4 linked regions of the Homo sapiens genome follow. The gene in region 1 interacts genetically with each later gene. Each region holds a gene or a part of one and is shown in the gene's direction. Other genes may lie near its edges.

Region 1 (4,966 bases):
TACTTGACAAAATGAGATCAGTGCACCCACATGCCTGTGTAGTGGGTGCTCTGGAAGTACCGCCAACATTGACCTGCATAAGGGTCTACCCTTCACCAAGCACTTCGGATAAATTATCTTATTAATCCTCAGGGCAAAGAGGCCAAGTGTGTATTTTCAAAGCAGCCTTTTGTAGTGAGGAAACCAAGGCTTAAAGAGAAGTATCTTGCCCACGCTCACACCACTGATTAGGTGGGCCTCCAGAGACTCACACCTAGGCCTGACTACCACCAAAGCCTGTGCGCATCTATGAGGCCACCCTGGCCTTCTGCCCTCCTTAGCTTTCCATGGATGGAAACTGTCGGCCAGTGTGTGATATTCTTCTGGCTCTGTGTTACAGCCCTCTGTATTGATTTCTTACAGAGTTGGGATTTTGGGGGAATTCTAAAAGGTTCAACAAATTCTTAGATTTCTCTTAGTCATTTTCTTAAAGCATTTTATAATCTTGTACTTGGAGTGTGTCAGCACTAAATTATGTTTTGTTTAAATGTACTGAATTTGAGGACATTTCTCAGTTTAATCATGTCACGGAATTGGAATTGGTTAGTACAAGCTGCAATATCTGTAGCAATCTGCCCATTTCTCCCTCGCACAAGGCTGAGTGAGGACAGAGCTTAGTGTCAAGATGTTGGTAAATAATACCACTATGTAGGAATGTAGTCTGGTGAGATGCTGTTTTTCCCAGCAGGTTTAACTGACTGAATACTTAAGGTGCCCAGATTGAAATGCAAAGCTCCAGTTATCCCATATGGAGACTACACTAGAAAGCCCCAGCAGCTTTATTTATTTACATTTATTTATTTATCTATCTATTTATTTATTTATTTTTTGGGACGGAGTCTTGCTCTGTTCCCTAGGCTGGAGTACAGTGACGCAGTCATCTCGGCTTACTGCAACCTCTGCCTCCTGGGTTCAAGCGATTCTCCTGCCTCAGCCTCCCGAGTAGCTGGGATTACAGGCACCCACCACCATGCCTGGCTAATTTTTGTAGTAGACAGGGGTTTTCACCATGTTTGTCAGGCTGGTCTCGAACTCCTGACTTCAGGTGATCCACCTGCCTTGGCCTCCCAAAGTGCTGGGATTACAAGCATAAGCCACCACCCCTGGCCTATTTACATTTAATTATGATTTATTTTTCCTATCCTTCTGCAAGCATATATATATATATATATATATATATATATATATATATACACACACACACACACACACACAAAATATCAAAATATATATATATATGTATATATATATATATTTTTTTTTTTTTTTGAGACTGAGTCTCGCTCTGTTGCCCAGGCTGGAGTGCAGTGGCACGATCTCTGCTCACTGCAAGCTCTGCCTCCCGGGTTCACTCCATTCTCCTGACTCAGCCTCCCGAGTAGCTTGGACTACAGGCGCCCACCACCACGCCCAGCTAATTTTTTGTATTTTTAGTAGAGACGGGGTTTCACCGTGTTAGCCAGGATGGTCTCGATCTCCTGACCTTGTGATCCGCACGCCTTGGCCTCCCAAAGTGCTGGGATTATAGGCGTGAGTCACCGCGCCCGGCCCAAAAAATCTTTGTGTTTTTTTGTTTGTTTGTTTTGTGTTCAGAGAAGGGATCTGGCTAGGTGCCCTGGCTCATGCCTGTAGTCCCAGCACTTTGGGAGGCCAAACCGAGAGGTTGCTTTTCAGGAGTTTGAGACCAGCCTGGGCAACATGGTGAAATCTCGTCTCTACAGAAAATACAAAAATTAGCCGGGCATGGTTGGCGCACACCTGTGGTCCCAGCTACTCAGGAGGCTGATGTGGAAGGATCGCTTGAGCCTGGGAGGTGGAGGCTGCAGTGAGCTGAAATTGCAACACTGCACTCCAACCTGGGTGACAGAGCAATACCCTATCTCAAAAAAAAGAGAGACAGAGTCTCGCTGTGTTGCCCAGGCTGTTCTCAAACTCCTGACCTCAAGTGACCCTCCCACCTTGGCCTCACAATGCACTGGGATTACAGGCATGAGCCACCACAACCGGTCTCAGCAGCTTTCTGTTTGTCAGATATACAAATATACCCCAGGCTCCAGGCCCCCACATCCCCCAAAAAACACACACACACACACACACACAGCATCAGAGACCTGAGAAGGACATCTTGGTGGAGGTTTGGGGGAATGGAGATGGTTCCTTTTATTTTTTTATAGTGGTGGTGTGGTGGTTTTTGTTGTTTTGGTGTCTAAATCAGAGCATCACATGGCCTTGAAGGTTTGGAAAGGAGGGGCCATAGTTCAAGAACAAGCAGTAGCTTCTTGGGAACGTATTGGAGAGAGAAAAGAGAAAAGAATATGGACAATGTAGAGAATTGTAGGTCTGAAACTATCTGGGACAAAGCTGAGGCTCCTGACTTCTATAGGGACCAGTCATATGAAAAAGAAGGGAGTCGTGAGAGATGATGGGGTAGTTGTGGGTTAAGTTGGGTTTTGGAAAGCCTTTGGGAAGATTGACCAGGGAAGAGGCCCTGGAAGTAGGCTTGAGACCCTTTGGGCTGGGAATTTAAGGGTCCCAGCTACTTGGAACATGATCTAGAAAGGGAAGCGAGGTCTCCAGGTGGACAAATCCCTTTGGACCCAAGACTCCTTGCCCAGAGAAAAGGGGCACAACCAGACAAGGGCTAGCATGGGCCCTGGGAAGCACGGAGTTCAGGGTGGGGCAGGCTTGCTGTGTCCTGGCCTGGCAACATACCTGCACTGTGTTGTGGTAGAAGAACACAAAGCTGGGAGGCAGAGAACTGGTTCTAATCCTAGCTGTACCCTGACAAGCTGTGTGACCTTGGCCAAGTTACTTTCCTCTCCTGGACTTCATATATGGTTTTTCCATTCTTTGCATCCCTGAAGCTCCATGACTTAGGGGCCATCAACTTGGTTGTCCCTGAGTGTTTCCAAGAATACCAACAGTGCCCAGGGTTTTACTCAGCTTGGAGAGGAGGCCTAGAGCCTCCCTGTGGTGAGGAGGAAAGAGGTTAGAGCAAGTTTGGGTCTGCAGTGCTAGGATTAGAGGTGGCCTCACAAGCCAAAACCGCTATACTCACAGCCTTAGGACAGTGACTCCCTACTCGCTGCCTCAGTGTTTCCAGCTGTAAAAAAGGACCCTTGGTACCTTCGACAGAACAGCACCCATCTAGTACAAAGGTAGTTCCTTTTATGATCAAAACAATCAGGAAAAAGAGAGAGGCTGGGTGCGGTGGCTCACACCTGTAATCCCAGCACTTTGGGAGGCTGAGGTGGGTGGATCACCTAAGGTCAGGAGTTCGAGACCCACCTATCAATATGGTGAAACCCTGTCTCTACTAAAATTACAAAAATTAGCCGGGCATGGTGCCGTGCACCTATAGTCCCAGCTACTCAGGAGGCTGAGGCGGGAGAATCGCTTGAACCCAGGAGGCAGAGGTTGAAGTAAGACAAGTTCGCGCCACTGCACTCCATCCAGCGTGGGCGATAGAGGAAGACTCCGTCTCAAAAAGAAAAAAGAAAGAAAATGAGAGAAAGGGCCTGGAGGTGAGTGTGAGGAGGGAAAAGAACATCAAACAGATAAAGTCCTGTCCTGTTGTCCTGGGACCTTGGGCAGCCATCTTGGCCCAGATGATCCCCACAAGAAAGAGGTAAGGGTTTCCTGACCCATTTCTGCCATGGTCTTAGGAAAGTCATTGAGTTTTCATGCCTTAGTTTCTTAAGCAAGTTTGAAAGTTCACTTTTTGGATAGCAATAAAATTACTCCTTTTCTTTTGTTCACAGAGATGCTGCAATTTGTCAGTAATCAAGTGGGAGAGTTCCCTGACTTGTTTTCAGAACAGCTGTGTAGCTCCTTTCCTGGCAGTGGTGGTAGTGGTAGCAGCAGCGGCAGCAGTGGCAGCAGCAGCAGCAGCAGCAATGGCAGGGGCAGCAGCAGCGGAGCTGTGGACCCTTCAGTGCAACGGTCATTCACCCAGGTCACATTACCTTCCTTCTCTCCCTCGGCGGCCTCCCCACAGGCTCCAACTCTGCAAGTCAAGGTTTCTCCCACCTCAGTTCCCACCACACCCAGGGCAACTCCTATTCTTCAGCCCCGCCCCCAGCCCCAGCCTCAACCTCAAACTCAGCTGCAACAACAGACGGTAATGATCACGCCAACATTCAGCACCACTCCGCAGACGAGGATCATCCAGCAGCCTTTGATATACCAGAATGCAGCTACTAGCTTTCAAGGTGATTCAGAAGTTAGAATGGTAGTGGTTGGTTGGTTCCAATGTTTATGTGCCAGTTTGCAGACACTGTAAATATTTCTGTCGTCTTCAGGAATGGCAGGTATATCAATATGGTCCTGTCTGAATGAGGTTCTGGTAACTGGCAATAAGAACTGGTACAGGAGCATGTCACATTCTGCAGCTTCAAATACCTTAATATCTATTGCGCCTAATTCAAAAATACTTGGTTAAAAAATCCAGCAAGCGGCCGGGCGCGGTGGCTCACGCCTGTAATCCCAGCACTTTGGGAGGCCAAGGCGGGCGGATCACGAGGTCAGGAGATTGAGACCATCCTGGCTAACTCAGTGAAACCCCATCTCTACTAAAAAATAGAAAAAATTAGCCGGGCATGGTGGCGGGCGCCTGTAGTCCCAGCTACTCGGGAGGCTGAGGCAGGAGAATGGCGTGAACCCGGGAGGCAGAGCTTGCAGTGAGCAGAGATCGTGCCACTGCACTCCAGCCTAGGCAACAGAGCGAGACTCCCATCTTAAAAAGAAAAAAAAAAATCCAGCAAGCATAGTAGACACAGGGCCATTCTGATAACTAGTGGTGGAGACTTGAATAAGGCTTGAAATTGGCTAGGCGGCAGCCAGATCTCAGCTGCCACAGTTGAGAACTATTCATTCAGCAAACATCTGAGCATCCACTATGGTGATGAATATGACTTTTAATATAGGT
Region 2 (4,966 bases), on another chromosome or scaffold:
TGTCAGACCCTACTTAAAGCCATTCCTTGGCTTTTCTTAAGCACTTTGCCCTGCCCCACAAACCCTGTGCTGCCTGCCTGCCTCCTATCTGCCCCCTCAGCAGCTCTCCCTGCGCCTGCTGCTAGCCCCTCCGCCCTGTGCCTCCAAGTGGGCCCAGCTCTTTCCACTCCAGCGCCTCTGGCTCCTTGTCCCCTTCACCCAGAATTCTTCCCTCTGCCCTTCACCGTCCTGGTTTCTTGTTATTCAGGCCTCACCTCCTCAGAGAAGCCTTCCTTGACCGCTTAGACCAAAGTAGCAGCCCATCATGCTTTCATCCCATCACCCTGTTTTGCTGCATGTGTTTCTATTCAATCTGTTCAAATTGTCTTCCCCCATTAGGATGGCAGCTTCCTTTTTTTTTTTTTTTTGAGATAGAGTTTCACTCTTTTCGCCCAGGCTGGAGTGCAGTGGTGCGATCTTGGCTCGCTGCAAACTCCACCTCCCGGGTTGAAGTGATTCTCCTGCCTCGGCCTCTCAAGTAGCTGGGACTACAGGCGCCTGCCACCACACCTGGCTAATTTTGTATTTTTAGTAGAGATAGGGTTTCACCACGTTGGCCAGGCTGGTTTTGAACTCCTGACCTCAGGTGATCTGCCTGCCTCGGCCTCCCAAAGTGCTGGGATTACAGGCATGAGCCACAGCGCCCAGCCAGGATGTCAGCTTTTGAGAGCAGAAGCTGCATCTGTTTTTGTTTGTCGCTGAATCCCCAGGGCTTAGAAGACTGCTTGGCACATTCCCTAAATGTTTACTGAATGAATAATTAGCAACCTGACATTTTGCACAAATTTTTCCTTGTAGGACTTCTTGAAACTGATTTGTCTGCTGTTATATCTGACCTATTTCCTGCTTATAGTTTATATTCTCCATTAAGATTCTGAGACAAAAAAATCCCCATGTACTGTCAGTTCTTATACTTTTCATTTTCCAAAGCATTTTCATTGGACTATATAAAAGCCTTCATTGTTCCTTAGACTGTGTGTGCGTTTCTTTTGAAGTTTAAAGTATTATTTGTGGTAAACATGGCAGAGGCGGCCCTGGACACGTAAATAAGCGTTTCTTGTGCGAGATTCCCAGGATTTCTCCCCAACATGGGCTTATTTCCACAATAGAAAAGGCACTTTGCCTTTTCATGTGGTTTGAGTATTTGGCAGTGATGTTATTACAGAGTGTATGGTTGCGATTGTATCTAAAACAAAATTGAAGCAAGAACAAAGATGGGGTTGTGTGAGTGTGTGTATGTGTCTGAGATTTTAATGACTGGTTTGCTTATGATTGGAAAGAAGAAAATTCCTATTTATTTCAGCTATTTACTAGATTAAGCAACTTTCAGCATTTCTCTGGCACTTTCTATTTCAGTTATTAATGTCTTTGAAAATTTGATATTTGAAGGGGAACCGGATACTCTTTTTTTTTTGAGGCAGAGTCTTGCTCTGTCGCCCAGGCTGGAGTGCAGTGGCATGATCTCGGCTCACCACAACCTCCGCCTCCCAGGTTCAAGTGATCTCCTGCCTCAGCCTCCTGAGTAGTTGGGATTACAGGCATGTACCACCAGGCCCAGCTAATTTTTGTATTTTTAGTAAAGACAGAGTTTCACCATATTGGCCAGACCAGTCTGAAACTCCCAACCTCAGGTGATCCACCCACCTTGGCCTCCCAAAGTGTTGGGGATTACAGGCATGAGCCACCGCACCCATCCAGATACGCTTAACTATGAGATGTTTCAGAAACCAAAAGTTTTCTCCCACTTATCAACCTTAGCCTAAACCATCTATGAGGAGTGGGAGGGAGATGGGGGAGTTGTACATATGGTGTTTTGTTTTATTATGCCTGTTGTATGCCTTAGGGGATATTTTACTTCTATTGTTTACTATTTATTGCCTAGTTTGTTTTCTTCTGTGCCTCTCGCATAAATTTCATGAGGACAGTGATTTTATTTGACTTGATTTTTGGTTGGGGGAATTATTTTTTCAAGTTCTTTTTAAAACGGGCTTTATTTTTTTAGAGTAGTTACAGGTTTACAGAAAAAATACACGGTGATTATAGGGAATTTCCATATACCCCGCTTCCCCGCAGTTTCTCCTGTTAACATCATGCATTAGTGTGGTGTATTTGTTACAACTGATGAACCGATTTTGATTCATTATTAACCAAGGTTCATAGTTTAACATTCATTCTTTGTGTTGTACATTCTGTGTATTTGGAAAAATGCACAGTGGCATGTCTCCCCCATTACAGTATCATGCAGAATAGTTTCAATGCCCTAAAACTCCCTTGTGCTCCTCCGCCTCATCCCTCCTTTCCCTTCTCCCCAACCCTTTGCAACCACTGTTATCTTTTTCTCTTTTCTTTTTTTTTTTTTTGGAATGGAGTCTTGCTATGTTGTCTGAGCTGGTTTTGATATCCTGGGACTCAAGCAGTCCTTCCGCCTTGGCCTCTCAAGTAGCTGGGATTACAGGCATGCACCACCATGCCCAGCTGTTTTTACTGACTCTGTACCCATTTCCAGAATGTCAGATAGTTGGGATCATACAGTATGGAGCCCTTTTAGGCACTTTCAGTTAACAACATGCATTAAGTTTCTTCCACATCTTTTTGTGGGTTGGTAGCTTATTTCTTAATGCTGAATAATATTTCACTGTGTATGAATGTACCACAGTTTATCCATGGACATATTGAAGGGCATCAAAACTTCAAGGACAGTTTTTGGTAGTTTATGAACAAAATTGCTATAATCATTTGTGTGCAAGTTTTCAACTCATTTTGATAAATACCTAATATTTTCTTTTATTGTATACTATTTATTGCCTATTTTTTATTTGCCTCCCCAGTAAGCTCCATAAGGACAGTGACTTTTTTTTAAGAGGGTTGCAGGGACGGTTTTTTTCACTGATGTATCCTGAATACCTAGAACAGTGCTTAACATCGTAGTAGGCAACTCAGTAAATATTTGGCAAGGTCTTTAAAAACTATCTTAACCCATGAAGGACATGAAATTACACATTTTTGTTTTTTGGGTTTTTTTTTTTTTTTTTTGAGACGGAGTCTCGCTCTTGTTGGCCAGGCTGGAGTGCAGTGGCGCGGTTTCGGCTCACTACAACCTCCACCTTCCAGGTTCAAGCGATTCTCCTGCCTCAGCCTCCCTAGTAGCTGGGATTACATGCGCCCGCCACCACACCCAGCTAATTTTTGTGTTTTTAGTAGAGACGGGGGTTTCACCATGTTGACCAGGCTGATCTCGAACTCCTGACCTTGTGATCCACCCACCTCGGCCTCCCAAAGTGCTGGGGTCATGGGGGTGAGCCATTGTACCCGGCTCATTTTTGTTTTTAATTAGTGCTGGCCCACCATTTCTTTCTGTGTGCTGAACTTCTTATGTTTATTCACAAGAGATACTAGCTCCTAAAAAAATCTGCCAGTGTTGAGAAACTAGGTAATGGAAAACTCTGAAGTTGCAGTCTCCTTTTAACTACAGTTCTGCTTTAGGCAGAGTCTGTTGAGTTTGCCATCAAAGAAGAAAGAAAAAACACATTATTTCTTCTCTTCTTCCACCCACAGCTGTTGCTTTAGCTTGTAATATAATTTCTTACATCGATAGGGTTTATAACTTTAATTTTGTACTGTCTCTGTGATTACCTCAATTGTTTAATCTTAGTTCTGTATTTACATGAATTCCTGACTGATCACTAGTCTTGTCATAGTTTCTCCCATCCCTAAATCTCTTATTGTGGATTTATTTCTAGACTGGCTGGTTCTGGTCCTCCAGTCGTGTGTGTGTGTGTGTGTGTGTGTGTGTGTGTGTGTGTGTGTGTTCATGTACATGTGCATTTTTTTTAAAGATGGGCTCAGGCTCAGTTGCTTTGTTCTTTATCATCAAGATTTTATGTTTGTGTGTATCTGTTTGGCTCTTAATTATACTTAAAACATTTGTTTAGTCATGTTATTTTTTTGAGAAGTGTGCATACATCTGACCTTACTGATCCTGCTTAGTAATGTGCATGTATATTTTTACATTTAGTTCTAAATGGAGCCCCTGGATTTATAAACTTGTGCGATGCTTTGAACGCCTGGCAGCTGGTGAAGGAACTCAAGGAGGCTTTAGGTATTCCAGCCGCTGCCTCTTTCAAACATGTCAGCCCAGCAGGTAAAGCTCTGTGCTCTGGAAAGCTCCAGAATTGTTCGAAAGGCATTTCTTCTTAAATTTTTTTGAATATTAACAAGTTCTAATGTGAATATAGACATGCTATGAAATCTGAAAGTCATCTGTTGATAACAGTATCAATGTAATAATATAAAATCTGATACACACACACACACAGAATTGTGTAATATTGTCAGGAAAATGAGGCAGGAATTTGTTTGTGGGGTGGAACCATAAAAGTTTAGAAAATAAAAGTGAAATGTCCTAATGCAATAGACTAAGTCTTGTGCCACATCTTTGAAAATGTAATGGAGTAAACATAAAGAAGTTCTTCTTTGGACTCTTTATCTGAAACTTCTTATAGTCGTTGTATGAGATACTTTGCTTCTGTGTTTAAATCATGAACTCCGCAATTGAGTTGTCTGTACACCACATCTTGCTGACAGTCCTCCAGCACATGATTTGTTCTCAGGTGTTTATTGGGTGTTAAAGTGATGTGAGTGGGGAAGAAATAAATGATGTGTGATATCAAAGTGATATCAAGCAGAACAGAGAGAAAGAGTGAGTCAGTAATGAAGTAAACGAGCTTCACCTACACGCTGGGTACTGTCAGGCTTCAGTGGCTCTGTGGTTTTGGAGGGCAGAGAGGAGATTTCCCTCACACTGCTCCCACAACCATATTTTTAGTGTATAATTATCTGGCTAAATAGATTTCTGTTTAATTTAGCACAGGCACTAGAAAATGTGCTGCGTAGACTGGGTGTTAAGAAAACTGTCTTGATTTAGGAG
Region 3 (4,122 bases), on another chromosome or scaffold:
GCCCTGGCCTCTTAGTGTTCACCAGTTGTACTGCAATATAGACAAGATGTCTCTAGAGACTCAAACTACTGTTTTATTAAAAAAGTAAACACCTGAGCACAGCTGGCCTACACAGGAGCGACAGATTCTCCTTGATGGTACACTTTCTAGTTTTTACACAGTGATTTAGGTCCACGTTCCTGATACCCCATCCTCCTGAAGCCTTCGTTTTCAAGACTTTTAAAAAGCACTTCTACTTGGTTTTTTGATCAGTGTAGCTCAATTGTGACTTAAAGAACAGAATCTGTCCTTCACTGTAAGAGCTACAGCTTTCAAATGAGCTCACTGGAAATTCATTCTAATCCCCAAGCTGGAGAAACAGGTTAAGAGATCCTGTTTCATATGCTGTATTTAAAAAGCAACAATGATAACAACATAGTAACTGCGTTACCCAATGGACTTTATTTTCATCATATGATTTCAATTCTCTTTATAGAGTTTTATTTCATATCCGGTGTGGCTTGTTCTTTTCAGCAGTTTGGGAAGTTAGTTATTAGAGTTGATAGTGAATTGAATTTTCATTAAACAGTCACGGTTAGAAGAAGCTAATATTTGAAACAGATTTTAAAAACTTGAAAAATTACAGGTGAGATTTCTGTTTATGCCAGATTATTGAAGATAAATATAAATGTATGTTGGTGTGTGAAATGCTCTGTGCCTTAGAAGCGTGACAGTTCAGCTCTCTGCTGTGGAAAGTAACACAGGGCAATAGAAACATATTTGTGGAATTTTAGAACAAACTATTGCTGACTCATGAGCACTATAATAACCATCAGGAAGCTCCCAACTGAAGCAATGTAACAGTGTAATCTAGTTCAATTCAGCAAACATTCATGGAGTTCTTCATGTCTGTCAAGCCTTGAGGACACCCACGAATGGCAAATCTCCACGCTAGACACTCAATACAGGTAAATAGGCCACCAGTTAATATTCTTGTTTTTATTTTCTTCAAGTTAGCTAAAAATGAGATGCGTATGAAGTGAGGAGGCTGGATCCAAGTCTTGATTGCCTTTCAGGGGGTCAAGGTGGTAAGCTGTGCAGTGAAGTCAACCAGTGGCCATGGCTTACATGTTTGTCTCTTTGAGATCGCCACCAGAACCATTTGTGAACTGATTTGTGAAGGAAAAGTCAGTCTTACTCCAAAGACTATTGCAGGGAGGAACTTCCAGAGAGGAAATCCAATGACAATGGTACTGGCATACACAGGGAGCCTCCCTTCAAAAAGACAGCGCCCCTAGTCAGGGAGGGGATGGCGGTCCTTTGATAAGACCCATAGGCAAACTTCGAGCCCATCAGCAGGTCAACCCTATGCTGGGAAAGTGAGGATTTGGGATTTCTGTGCTATAAACCTGATTCTAAATGTAGGACCCAAGTTTCTGGACTACTTCAGAATACCTAAATGAATCATGGAAACACTCTTTATGATTTTTTACAACACCAGATATGCAGGTGAATTGTGGAAAATGTCATGTAGCTGACACTCAAGAAATAGGGATTCCTAATAATGGCATGGGTAGGGAACAGATACACCTGGTTAGAAGGTCTAGGGTTCTGTATATGAAGCTGCCAGTCTGTAGCTCTTCGAGAAAGAAAGTTCAAGTCATTTGGGGGAAACTTAAGAATAGTCATCAGGGTTTTAGCTTCTAGGCACCAGCCAAGGATGAGAACTTCTAAAATCTAAAATCCATTTCAAGAAATAAAGACGAACACATTTGCAGGAAGGTAACTGTTATAACCCACACCATCAGCAGGGGGAAAGCCAAGCTGAGAATAAACCCAGAGACAAAGAACCCTCGGACTCAGGCAGGACATGGCAGGATGTTCTGGCACAGCAGACTGGAGACTGAGGCAGGGCCTGTGAGTGGACAGAGCACCCCTGGCTGGGAAGAAGAAGATGGGGTAGGAGGAGGTCAGGTTCCAAGGATGCAGGTCTGGAAAATGATATCGGAGGCCCTGGAGTTTGTGAGCTTGGCTCTAGTCCCAAGAAGGGTGAGGGAGAATAAGGGTAAGGGAGTATTCTAGGCAAGGAACTAAGGAAGGAATCCCCTTCTTAGAGCAGAGGCACAAGTTAGAGCAGGCCCAGCATTTGGGCCAACTTACTGTGGGGCCTCTGAGCTGCTCAGCTGGGTCTCCTGTCCTAGAGGGAAGGTGGCCCAGAGTCTTTGGTGGAGCGGAATCTGTAGATGAGGTTAAGGGACTCCAGTTGCCAAGGTTGATCTGAAACAGGCAGGGAGCTAAGCTCATCAGAACACCAACAGATTCATGTTCTCGTCTTAGCTTTCATCTATTCTGGTCTCAATGGCTTCGGGAAACACACATATACACATACACCATGCCCTTGAACTCAAAGCAAACTACGCTCTCAGGGAAATACAAATATCACGTTCTTATAGCTGTAAAGTATAGCTTAGCTATTTATAGAAGACTATGAGGTACTGTTGTGAGTTATTTGCTTATCCTGTTTTATTCTGAAAAATGAAAGTGCTCAATAGAATTTTTAACGTTGGCAACACCATAAGGATTTCTTATGTTAAGTCCCAACTTGGGGTTGCAAAATCATTTTTTCCCTTAATACCTGGGTGTTGTATTAGATCTCATAATTTGACAAGTTAACCTTTTAGAAATCCACATATATCTCAAATCTGGCTACTGCAAAACCAGTTTTGACAGGTCAGATTTTCATATGTATAGGTATAAATAGCCAACACTCAGTGAACAAAATCCTTTAAGCATTTTGGTTACATAAAGTTGTATGTTTTAAGTGATCAAACTAAGAATATTGTTTATAGGTTTTAAAAACCAAACCAATAAAATTTTTATTTATTCAATAAAATATGCACAGAACAGATGCAAATGTGTTATATACAATCATGAAGTTTTTTTTTTTTTTTTTTGCTGTTTTTAGTTTATATAAATGAGTGGTGTCTGAATAGAAATTAATTTAGAAGGTGGAAATTTAAAACGTTTCATTTGGTTCATGGGACTTTAGATAAGTTCATAGGTTAAAATTCACCAGGTTTGATTTATAGAATGTCAAAGAGTAGACAGATTTTCCCTCCCTAAAGATGCATTGCCTCGCTGAGCAAGCTTTTACCAACCCATATGCAAACTGCGTGACTCTTCTCTTGCCTGGCCTCAGCTCTTCTTACAGGAGACCCCCTTCTAGGTTTTTGATTACAGGTCTGACCTTTTAGCCTGCGTCCACCATTGTTCCTGTGTTGTCTCTGAAGCCCTCCCTGGTCTGTGCTTCTCAAATTGGGGCACGTGTAACTTGGGGTATGAGACTTCCCTTTAATCACTGGAAACCTTGTTATCAATTTAGTTTGTTTTGGTTACAATGCAAGACTCCTGTGTATTTGAAAAGGAAAATCAGAGGCTTTAAAGAAATCTGGGGTTCCATGAATAGCTTCAGACCTTCCCCTCTGGGCATCCCCAGAGGTAGATGTTCTGCCTTAGGACTTCTTGGTGGAAACCCTTGGGAATCACAGACCCAGCTTCCTCACTGGTGGGGAATGTTCTGGAGTGATCTTGGGCCCTGGATCTGAGTGCCAGTGCACCAGCTGTGAGTCAAACGGAGTTTTGACCTTAACTTTGCTGCTGAGCCTTCCAATTTCCCCGCTGGGTCTAAGTGATAATCTCATGTCTGGGCAGTTTGGCCGGGGCCAGGCATCTGCCCAGCTTTTCTTAGTGCCTCCCCCTGCACCAGCTCCTCCCTGCTGGTGTATGGCATCTTCTGGACCAGCTCCTTTTCACTGGACGTGCAGCCTTCATACAGGATCTCAGTTCTCTCCCGCCCTCCATAGGCCCATGCCTTATGTTCCGTTCCTGCATGTGGCCACAGTTGAAAACTCTTTGGTGCTGGGGATGAATCCAGGTCCAGTCCCACCCTCCCCAGTCTCCCCACCATTGGCCTGGCTGCTTACCAGTCACTCTGTTTTTCACTTCCATGTTTGTTTACTGGCACCTGGGGATTTTCCTTTTCTCTTTGCACATTCAGATGTCTGCTTTGTTATTGATTCCCACATGAAACGCTGCCTTGAAACCCATGCCCAACCATCTCTACTCATCTGCCTGGATAGAGAA
Region 4 (4,966 bases), on another chromosome or scaffold:
TAGCCTTTTAAAGATACTGTTAATGTTGAGATAGAATTCTAGATCAACAAGTGCTCTTTTCTATTTCTTTCTCTTAATGATACGTTTGGTATCGACTTTTTGCGTGACATATTGCAGTTTGGTTGGAAGTTGTAAAGGAAGTGTTTCTTGCAAGTATGATCAAACTCAGTTTAAGCAAGAGATTGAAACAGCCAACTTCAGCTGCTTATTCAGCACAGGCCTTAAGTGCCCCAGAAGCCGATAGTTTCTTAATAATAACTCTTAGTGATCATTTTCTTCTAGAAAATTACCCTGGAAAAGTAGTATAAATAGTTTAATCTGCTATTTCTTAAAATTTTGTATTCCTTTACTCATTCAACAAATAAATAGTATTCAGTGCTTCTTTGTGCCAAGCACTGAGGGCTCATTAGTGAGCAAAAGGGATATTAACCACTGTTTTAAAAAAAAAATGTATCTAACATGTACTAAAAGCCAATGGATGTGGTGATGCATGCCTATAGTCCTACCTACTTAGAAGGGTGAGGCAGGAGGATCACTTTGAGCCCAGGGGTTTGAGTTTGTGCTATAATGGTGCCACTGTACTCCAGCCTGGGCAACAGAGCAAGACCCTGTCTCTTAAAAAAGCAAACAAAAAGCCTTTAATGGAACTATTGTTGCTCATAACGGCATACTTTAGAACCCCTGGTCTAGTCTGACTGTGCTTACCTACCTGCTTGCATGCGTTTCTCTTTCTTCCCACCTCTCTTCCCCTCCCTTCCTTCCTTTCTTAATTCTCTTCTGTTTTTTACAACTCTTTTCCTTCTTTGAGTTAGTGACAATAAGCAAATTTTGAACTCATCTAAGATTAGGAGAAAAACTGTATGTGATATTTATTGTATAAAACTTGCATGGTAGAGTTAAACAGGAGATGATAAAATTCTTAATTTACTTTATAAACCAAATGTCATCTCACCTGTCTAGCTCTCAAGGTGGGTATGTTTGTTACTTCTTCCAGAAACCATGTCTCTTTAAATGGGTTTATATCATTCTATTTTAAATAAAATTCGTATGTTTTTATACAAGTGTGCTCTTTAGATGCAAACATTTATATGATTAGATAAATTTTCCTTAGTCTTTCTTTGATTATGTATTGTCTGAATTTGAATCCTGATGTGTTATTCTGGAATTAGCCATTTTTGTTTCTATTTCTGTTTGTTATGTTACAATTAGTGTATTTCTTATTTTTCAGTGCTTTAATTGCCTTGTTATCTAAACTCTAGAATATATACCAGTTAATTAAAGACATGTGTGTTTTTTTTTTTTGCTTTTGTCTTTACTGGCGAATTTAAAGGTAATTGAAAGTATAATTCTTGTCTTCTTTAGCATCAGACAACAGTCAGCGCTTTCGAGAAACCTGTTTTGCATTTGCCTTGACACCACAACAAGTGCAGCAAATCAGTAGTTCCATGTAAGTTGTCGTCAAGTGTAACTTGAAGTTTGACCTTTGAATCCAGTAGTCTATAATAAATGATTTTAAAAAACAGTGATTGGTGAGTTAGTATTTGTGTGATGCAAATATTAGTAATGAAAGTATAGTGTGTTAGTTACTGTAAGAACAGTTATATTTATGATAATTTGAAAAACTTTTCTGGAGTAACAAGGTCTTTGAATGAACTTTCATGCAAATACTTTAAAAGTAATTGTAATTCCTATTCTGTCTCTTCTAGGGATATTTCTGGGACCAAATGTGACTTCACAGTACAGGTCCAGTTAAGGTACAGTGCTGACTATAGGATATATTCAAAGTTTAAAAGATAATATTCCTTTTCACAGTACGGGTCCAGTTAAGGTACAGTGCTGACTGTAGGATATATTCAAAGTTTAAAAGATAATATTCCTTATCAGGAAGGGGAAATGGAAAAAAAATTTTAAGGAATAAGAGGAAATCTACCTGATTTTTCAATAAGTGTATTGAAAATATTAGGTTTAGATATTTGGGTGAGGGAAAACATTCTCCTGTTATGAGATATTCTAATTTTCATCCAATTTAGATTTTTCCCCTGCCCGCCCACCCCCCAGTTTAGATTTCAATATAGCAAGTCATGTTCTATATATCTAACCATATTTGATTGCCCTCAGTTGGTTGAGAAGCTCCAGCTAATGATATCTTACAATATCATATCAAGTTTTATGAAAGCATGGGCCTTATCTCCATAAGAGGCAAAGTACTGTGGATAAGGAATTAGTACTTAAGTCTACAGTATGTCATGGACTAACAAACATCAAAATATTCTAATTTGTTTTGTTCTGTATTTTAAATAATTTAAATATGCTCTAATTTAGGATCCATTTGAGACATCTCTTAAAAATGTTCAAAGACTAATGGGAAATTTTCCAACATGGATTCACAACCCCTTATTGAGTTTCTTTTCTTAGCCCATTCATTTGTCTTAGAATATCTAAGAAATATTTTGTATTATTTCTCTCCCTTATATATCTCCCTTTTATATACATATATATATATATCTCCCTTATATAAACCATCATATTATGCTTTATTATTCGATTTACCAACTTAAATGTCCACACTGTTGGAATAGGGATGGAAGAGAAAATATAAGACAGTTGTTTTCCTCAGTAAGCTGTTTTCCCTATAATTGTCAGGAGGATAAATCAAACAGTTAGCCTTGTCTCAATAATCAGATACTAAGTTGTATGTACAAGTTACAAATACACTAGGAGGCTAAAAAAGGGATTAATCTAAAACGCCTGTTCAGCACTTCATGGAACCATGTGAAAACCTCTCATCTAAGCTTTGAAATAATAAGGTAAAAACAGTGAGAAAGCAGAGTTGAAGTCGAAAGTTGAGTTGAAGATTCTAAAGAGGATATGACTATACTTAATAACTTTTATACCATAAAACAGTATGACAGGACCTTACTGCAGTAGACTAGTGATAATCTAAGTTTCAGTTTTGGAAGGCACTGCTAAAGATGATTCTGTATAAAAGGTATATTTTATGTCGGCCAGATTGTGATAATGACTGAAGAAATTAAAGGACAAAAATAAGATGTCTCCATAGTTAATTATGTATTGCTGTAGTCTTCTTTACTTCCTGCCTCAACAGTTTACATTTTGCTTGTGCTGATACTTGACATTATCCTTTAAATCAGTGGTTTTCAAACTTGTTGCATGGAGCCACCCTTAGGGGTTCATACTCTTCTGCCATCCTCCTCTTCTCTCCTAAACACATACACAGTCTGAACCAAAGTGGGGCTTCTTTTATCTCTTTTATCTGTTTTGCATGTTTGACTCTGGGTTAATTTTTGCTTAAAGACAGGGTCCCAAGACTAAAATAAAGTTTAAAAACCGTAGCTTTAGAATAAAAGATCTAGTTACTAAGTATTTTGTATTAATATACATACATTCTTTAAAGCAGCAACAGGTGTGGTCCACATTTTGAAGTAAGGTTGTCTAGATAGATGAGCTATAATTCAGAGATTCCAAGGGTATCTTGATGACTGCTATTTTAATTGAAATGTATCTCCAGGACTTGGAAAAAAAAAAAAAAAAAGAACCATGTTGTGTTATATTTGGTAATTGTTAGGTGGTTCTTTGTGTTTTAATAAAACAGTTCATCTCTCTCCCTGCCCCACGTTGCTAGGTCTGCAACCATAGTGTATTATTTAAGTTAGGAGTGTATGCCTATCTGCTATCCTAATTAGAAATGTTTATCTAAAGCATAAAAATAATTAGTTGAGAATTAGGATCCAAGTTTTCTTTATTAGACACCTAGTCTGTTTTCATTTATGTTGTGCCTCCCTGCTCCACTCCCTCCTCTCTGCCCCATGAACCACTTCACAGAAACTTTCTGCTATTCCTTTTTTTCTTTTTTCTCTTCAGTTCATTAGGGTGATTTAGATTAGTTGAATAGACACTGTCTTGTCATTTAAATTACTCTTTTCCTATAGGAAAGGGTTCAGGCAGCCAGGGTCCATGTTTTAAATTGATCACTGCATTGGAATAATTATTTAAAAACTGTGACATCCTTTTAACTATTGCAGCCTAAAGAATTAGCCTGTAATGGAAGGTTCTGCTGGGGTTAGGAGTGGTCCTGTGAGCTTTGACATCTGTTTGCTAAGTATATTTCTAGAAAATCTTTGTAGATCAGTAAATCTTAACTTTTTTATGGATCCCTGATCCCTTTGAGAATTTGATAGAAGCTGTGAATGGTTTCCCTATAAAACTGAACATGTATATGTACTCAAAATAATTTACATATAAAATTGTTTTATATTGTGCACGATCCCCGTACTCAGATTTCATGGCCAGCAGGTTAAGACCCCATACCGCAGGTGTTGAGAGGAGTTGTTGGCACATGAGGAATATTTCACAGATTTCGGAGATAGGGTTCTCCCTACTATGTAACTCAGGGGTGCTATTAGCATTCTATAACAGTGCAATGAGCCTTAGGTGTATATTGAGAATAGGTACTAATAAAGAATAAATGCCTTAAATAGCAAAATAGTAATAAGAGTGAATAGACTGAGAATTTATGAATTATGTATCTTTCCTTGATTTTTCCAAAAGACTGCATTTAATTTAGAAATATTTTTATAAGTTTCTAAAATAGTATTCTAAATTTATGTGGCTATAACACAAATAATATTCAATATCTTCAGTTCTCAAAAAATAAGGAGTACTTTGGCTTACTGATCCTGGGGATGGACTTAAAAGCATTCTCAGTATTTTCTGCTAAGAACCAGAAAAGTGTTTCATAGGCAAATAAATTTGGAAAATACTGCATACAGGTGGTAGGTCTTCCTCTTAGAGATTTATAATGCTTATTAGCCTATTAAAAGCTCTGAAAAGTTCTGTATTAAGGAAGCTTAATTTAATTGTTTTGATTCAGAATTTCTTAATTTTATTTGACTAACGAGTCTTTTTTTCTTTTAACATCTGTTAATCACTGAAGAAACTAGTGCTT

What was found. A genetic interaction does not mean that the proteins touch.
Region 2: changes in SREBF2 (region 1) and ATIC together harm fitness less than expected from each alone (positive genetic interaction), as found in Homo sapiens cells (one large-scale study listed by BioGRID).
Region 3: changes in SREBF2 (region 1) and KLHL6 together harm fitness less than expected from each alone (positive genetic interaction), as found in Homo sapiens cells (one large-scale study listed by BioGRID).
Region 4: changes in SREBF2 (region 1) and PIAS1 together harm fitness less than expected from each alone (positive genetic interaction), as found in Homo sapiens cells (one large-scale study listed by BioGRID).

Annotation. Positions count from the first base shown.
Region 1 is NC_000022.11:41,863,031-41,867,996, forward strand, and holds part of SREBF2 (sterol regulatory element-binding protein 2), read left to right. Parts: intron 1-3,800; coding exon 3,801-4,250; intron 4,251-4,966.
Region 2 is NC_000002.12:215,328,328-215,333,293, forward strand, and holds part of ATIC (bifunctional purine biosynthesis protein ATIC), read left to right. Parts: intron 1-4,054; coding exon 4,055-4,180; intron 4,181-4,966. UniProt on the Homo sapiens protein: Bifunctional enzyme that catalyzes the last two steps of purine biosynthesis.
Region 3 is NC_000003.12:183,486,316-183,490,437, reverse strand, and holds the end of KLHL6 (kelch-like protein 6), read left to right. Parts: 3' UTR 1-2,887; downstream 2,888-4,122. UniProt on the Homo sapiens protein: Involved in B-lymphocyte antigen receptor signaling and germinal center formation.
Region 4 is NC_000015.10:68,140,584-68,145,549, forward strand, and holds part of PIAS1 (E3 SUMO-protein ligase PIAS1), read left to right. Parts: intron 1-1,362; coding exon 1,363-1,447; intron 1,448-1,706; coding exon 1,707-1,754; intron 1,755-4,966. UniProt on the Homo sapiens protein: Functions as an E3-type small ubiquitin-like modifier (SUMO) ligase, stabilizing the interaction between UBE2I and the substrate, and as a SUMO-tethering factor. Catalyzes sumoylation of various proteins, such as CEBPB, MRE11, MTA1, PTK2 and PML.